Linked DNA regions of Homo sapiens: region 1 is linked to region 2. Evidence: fine-mapped expression QTL. A gene starts in region 2. The other region holds a variant in brackets. All regions are shown on one strand. Distances are between the middles of the regions.

Region 1 (2,909 bases), 51 kb before region 2:
AAGCTTCATCCCTCTAGGACTCTGGGAACTCCTCCAGAACGCACAGCAGAGGTCCCCACCCAGCGGGGAGGGAGCTGGGTCGCAAAACCCATTTCCCCTGGCACTTTGGTGTTTAGTCCTGACCTGAACTGCAACAGAAGTTTGTTGATTATATTTCTTCTTTTCCAGCATCTGCCACAGCTGGAAGAGACTTTTTTTATATGAGCAAAAATGCAGAAAGAATGAGTTAATGACGAATTGTGTGTGTTTCATCTGAATGGACCGAGTTGCTACAACCCAGCAGAGCGGGGAGTGGATGGTCTCTCAGCCTCTGCGAGGTCTCAGGGAGTCCTGCTAAAAAAACTCCCTGTTGCGCTTGGTCAGAATAAATCACATGTTCTTCGTGTTTGCCAGGAACTTAGTGTAAACTGGACTATAATCCGTCTGTTTTATTCCTTGTTGGAAGTGCTGGAAATCTTCAAAGTACAAAATGCACTGTGTTAGGTTTAAGAAGAAAGGGAATCACCTCTTAGTGTCTGGTGTCCTGTTCATTTCCATGACTTTCCCTCCTCTGGGAAGTGCCCTGTGAATGGCCCCTTGCTGGTGAGTTTCTCAATGAGTCCCTGGCTGCGTGGGGCAAATGTCTCCCTTTCATTCCAATGAGGAAGAAGTCTCAGAATTATGCTAATTGGCTAAGGTTTAATGGATATATTTAAAATAGTCCCAAATATCCAGTGTGCCAGGGCAGCGTTGCCCCAAGGGAAGTATCTGGGTGGGAAATAATGATTGCCTAAATTAAAAACCCAGAAGAGGAACTAGCACCTATTTAGGGGGTTAGAAGAAGGAAGGCAGAAATGGTAAAACGTCTGTATCTGTGTTCTTTTTAGGGTGAGAGAGTGGACCATTGTGAGGGTCTGGATGGGGGAATAAGGGAGATGGAACCTCATGGGGGAATCCAAAACCCAGAGATGCAAGTCAGCAACGAAAAGACAAATAACCCAATTCAAAAACAGGCAAAGAACTTTAATGCATGTTTTCCCAAAGAAGACACAAATGGCCAATAAGCACGTGAATAGATGCTCAACATCATTAGTCATTAGGAAATGTAAACCAAAACCACGACAAGATACCACTGCACACCCACTAGGAGAGCTAAAATCAAAACGACAGAAGATGGGTGTTGGCAAGGATGTGGGGAATTGGAACTCTCATACAGTGCTGGTGGGAATGTAACGCGTGCGGCTGCTGGGGAAAACAGCCTGGCAGCTCCTCACAAAGTTGAACACAGCTCTCTTTTTTCTCTCTTCTTTTCTCTCTTGG[G/A]CCTTGGCGCCTACTTGGATCCCTGCCAAGCGCATCTTCCTCTTTCCTGTTCTAAAGCTTTATAAATAAACTTCCATTCCTGTTCTGGAAAGAAAAAGTTGAACACAGAGCTACCATATGACCCAGCAATTCCACTCCTCGGTGAATTTCCAAGAGATGAAAAGATATGTCCAAGCACACACTTGTATCTGTGCGTTCACAGCAGCATTATTCACAATAGCCAAAAAAATAGAAACAAGGCAAATGTTCATGGACTGATGGAAGGTTAAACAATATGTGGTTTATCCATGCCATGGAATCTTATTCAGCTATGAAAAGGAATGGATATTGATACATGCTGCAACTCGCATGGACCCCGAACACACCATGCTAAGTGAAAGAAGCCAGGCACAAAAGCTCGCATGTTGTGTAATTCCACTTATATAAAATGTCCAGAATAGGTCGATCCATAGAACAGGAAGGAGATTCATGGTTGTCGGGGTGTGGGGGTAGGGGAGGATGGGGAGTGACTGCTTCACGGACGGTAGTTTCTTTATGGGTTGATGAAAATATTCCAGAATCAGATATTGATCATGGTGGCACAACATCTATGACTGCACTGAAACGCACTGAAGTGTACACTTTAAAATGGTTCAAATGGTACATTTTGTTATGTGAATTTTGCCTCAGTAATAATTTTTGAAAACATAATTTTAATAGGGGTATAGCCATAAATCATAAATTGTGAAGCACAGCTAATGAAAATGTGGAGTCCTTTGTTCAAAAACTGTAAAGAGTTTCAGGATGGCAATGGCAGAGTCTTAAGCCAAGCGAGGTGGCCTATGGGGCTACACAGGTCGCACCCCAGAGGCAGGACCAGCAGTGGTGCTGGGACCTCGCTCCCAGCGTCTACAGCAGGGGCCGGGATCCCCTGCTCCTCAGTGACGCTGCAGTGCAGGTCTGCCCTTCTGTGGTCCCCAGGCTGCTGCCATCACAATTTCCGCTTTTGCTTGTCCCAACTCCACCCCGTGCCTTGACTCTGCTTGGTTTCTCTCCGCTTCCCACCAAGGCTGTGATTCCCTCTCTCGATGGGGGTTCCACGGTCACATTCTGGAGGGAGGGAACCTGCATGCAGCCTGCTTCGTGGTTGGAGGAGGTGTGGGGGGGCAGTTTCCCAGCAGCTGTGTCATAGATTGCTGGGACCTTGGGAGCTCTTCGTCAGCTGTGGCTGTGAGGGGAATCGTGTAGTCCGAAGCCTGGGGCTCTTTTGGAAAGGCTGGGCGAGATCCCTTTGCGTGGCCGGGGTTCACAGGAAGACGACAGGGAAGGTCCTGGGAATGATGGCCTTGAGCGTCCCTTCCCCATTGCCCATCCAACCTCTTCAGGTGACAGCTTCTTGATATTGGACAAGTCATTTAACTTCTCTGACCCTCCATGACCTCTTTAGTAAACGGGAATAAAACCTTAGCTGTTCACGCACGGGGGCTGAATCAGTTGATGAAACCAAATAAGCCCTAGGTGAGCTCCTGCTGTGTTCGAAGTGGGTGCTGGGCCCTGGGAGGCGGAGGGGAGGCGGCTGGGTGGGGACACAGGTGTGCTTACAGCTAGCTGTGATGCAGAGTAGAGGGGGC
Region 2 (2,909 bases):
GCCGACGGTGGTCATGGTGATGATGGCCCACCAGAAGGACTGGGGGATGCTCTTAAACAGGGTCTCTGGATGGCTCTGCTCCATGGTGTAGCCCAGGGCAGAGAAGACGAAGATACCCACTGCCAGGTACATGAGCAGCAGCCCCAGTTCCTTGAAGCTGCGCTTGAGGGCATAGGTGAGGGTCTGCAGGCCCGAGGAGTGGCGGGCCAGCTTGAAGATGCGCGCGATGCGCATGATCCGCAGCGCCTGCACGGCCTGCTGCACGTTGGTCAGCTCCATCATGCGGGCACCCAGGTGCGTGAGCGTGAGGCTCACGTAGAAGGGGAGGATGGCCAGCACGTCCACAATGTTCATGAAGGACAGCGCGAAGTGCAGCTTGTTGGGTGACGAGAAGAGGCGCAGCAGGTACTCCAGGGTGAACCAGCCAATGCACGCCGTCTCCACGTTCTCCAGCGTCGGGTGCTCCACGCGGTTGCCCTCGGCGTCCAGCACCTGCAGCTCGGGGATGGTGCCCATGCACATGACCACGGACGAGACGAGGATGAGCAGGAAGGAGAGCACGGCCACCACCCGCGCCGGGCACGACGACTCGGGCTTCTCCAGGAACTTCCAGACGCACTTCTGGCAGCGGCGCCAGCGGCCCTCGGCTGCGTCCACGCCCAGGTCGTCCAGGATGAGCTGCACGCGGCGCGCGATCTCCTCCAGCTCCTCGCGCTTCTCGCTCAGGTGGCTCTTGCAACAGTCGTCCAGGAACTTGAGGTCCACCTTCCAGAAGTCCATCTCGTTCTTGAAGCAGATGGGGCAGATGCCCTTCTTCATGTGGACCTCCCCGAAATAGTACACCTCGATGACACACTTGAAGGCGTCCGGGTCCCTGTCAAAGTAGAACTCGCGCTTGCCGGGGTCGTAGTCGTCGCACAGGGAGAAGATGGTGTCGTAGCCCCCAGCCAAGCAGTTGATGAGCTCCGCCAGCCGGGTCTCAGGGTACTGACTGAGGAGGTCCCCGTACAGCACCTGCCGCACGCCCCCCACGTTGACGACTATCTCTATGTCGTCGCTGGCAGCGGAGCTCTGGCTGCCCGGCTCCGGGAGGCTGCGCTCCCCGGACCCGTCCATCCTCCCCGCGCGCGCCCTCGCAGCCTCCGCCCCGCGCCCCCTGCAGCCGCCGCCGCCGCTGCCGCTGGGGGTCCGGCGGGTGCCACCCGTGCGCTGATCTCGGGGAGAGCCTGGCCGGCGCCCGCCTGCGGGGAAGGGCGGTCACAGCGGGCAGCAGCCTGCGGGGGCGCGCCGCGGGGGAGGCATGCACCCGGCGGCGGGGCTCGGGGCTGGCATCCGGGCGCCCGGGCGAGCCCGCGGGGGCTTTGGCGGCCGCCGGCCTCGCCCGGGGCACTCACCCCGGCTGGCTGGCGGCGCGCTCCGCCGCTTCAGCTCGGCCTCCTGCGGGAGCGGGGTCTCCTCGTGGGCGGCTGGCACCGTCCTCCGCCCCGGGGCGCGCAGGCAGCGGCGGCAGGTCCCGGAGCTGGCGGACCCACGCCGTCCGCGAGGTGCTCGAGGTGTGCAGAGAGCGAACTTGGGCTGGCTTTGCCCGAGCCTTTTCTAAACACAATAGGAATTCCAGCCTGACGTCAGGAGCTTTTCAAACTGTACCCTCTTCTGGTGAAATTCTGCAAGGCACGCGCGGCAGCTGCAGGGGACGGATTAACCCTTGGGCAGACGGGCACAGCTGCCGCGCCCGCCGCCACCACCGCGCACCGCCGGCCCCTCCTCGGGCGCAGCGGGTCACCGAGGGGTTGCGACCTGGCTTGAAGCGGCAGGCATTCTCTCTCACTGCTGTTTGGAGAGGATTAGTGGGGAGAGAATGCTGCCGCCTGTTGCTGGGCAGGAAAATGTGCTCCAGGAAGCCCCTTAGAAGGTGACTCCTATGTCTGGGTCCCTCCTCCGGCCTTAGACCCGCGCCGGCTTTTCCTGGTGGGAGGAAAATCCTGCCTGATCCTTGAAGCGTTTCCTGCCCCATCCCCCCGACCCAGCAATGCCCTGCTGTGTTGGTGGCACTGTCTCACCTTCCCCGCAACGCTGTACAAGGAGGACATCTAGTCCAGCCTCCTGTAGAAGGGAAGGGACTTGCCCAAGGTCACGCGGCGGAATGAGAGCAGAGCTCAGCTTGACCGCCTCCTGATCCCGAGCTTTCCGGCTGTCCCAGCTGACCGACGCCTGCTGTTCAGCAGATTTCAATTCTGCCTTGAAGTCCCTGCCGTCTGGCACCTCCTATCTCTCTGCAGTCCCACACCAAGGCCACTAGCTTCCAGACCCCTAGGGTCCAGTGGCTCCTGCTTCCCCGTTCCTCACTCCTTGACCAAGGCCTGTCTCTTCCTGACCAGTGTCCCACACCCTCCTCTCTTCCAGCCTTTGCAGCCACAGCTGTCCTTCTGTCCTCACTCACCTGAACCACTACAGCAGCTTCCTAACAGTGTCTCTCTCCTCCGGTTCACCACTATCATCAATACTGCAAATTACTGATATCATCTATGGCCTCGAGATCGTGTTAAAAATATTCTGGAGGGAAGAATGAATAGGCAGAGCAGAGGATTTTTAGGGCAGTGAAACGTACCATAATGGCGGATATGTGTCGTTATGCAATGGTCAAAATCCATAGAATGTTCACCACCAGGAGCGAATGTTAATGCAAACTCGGTGCTGGGCGATGATGACGTGTCCATGTGGGGTGGTCCACCATGACAAGTGTCCCACCCTGTGTGAGATGTTGATGCGCAGGGGAGAGCTGTGGAGACAGGGGGCATGTGGGAATTCTCTGTACTTTCTGTTGAATTGTGCTCTAAAATATAAAGTCTATTTAAAAATGTATTCTGTAGGCTGGGTTTTTTAAAACTTAAGGACATGTCCGTTAATGG

The links. PIP is the estimated chance that this variant, and not a neighbour inherited with it, causes the effect.
Region 1: its variant is the best candidate, but not a certain one, in a credible set for the expression of KCNF1 in cerebellum (GTEx, PIP 0.86).

What each region holds. Positions count from the first base shown.
Region 1 is chr2:10,961,674-10,964,582 of GRCh38, reverse strand. No RefSeq gene overlaps it. Among named protein-coding and RNA genes, the nearest start is that of KCNF1, 51 kb to the right of the region's middle. The variant G/A (reference allele first, on the strand shown) is at 1,300.
Region 2 is chr2:10,910,634-10,913,542 of GRCh38, reverse strand. It overlaps KCNF1 (potassium voltage-gated channel modifier subfamily F member 1), which reads right to left and starts at 1,609. Exons shown (of 1, transcript NM_002236.5): 1 at 1-1,609. The coding sequence starts at 1,116.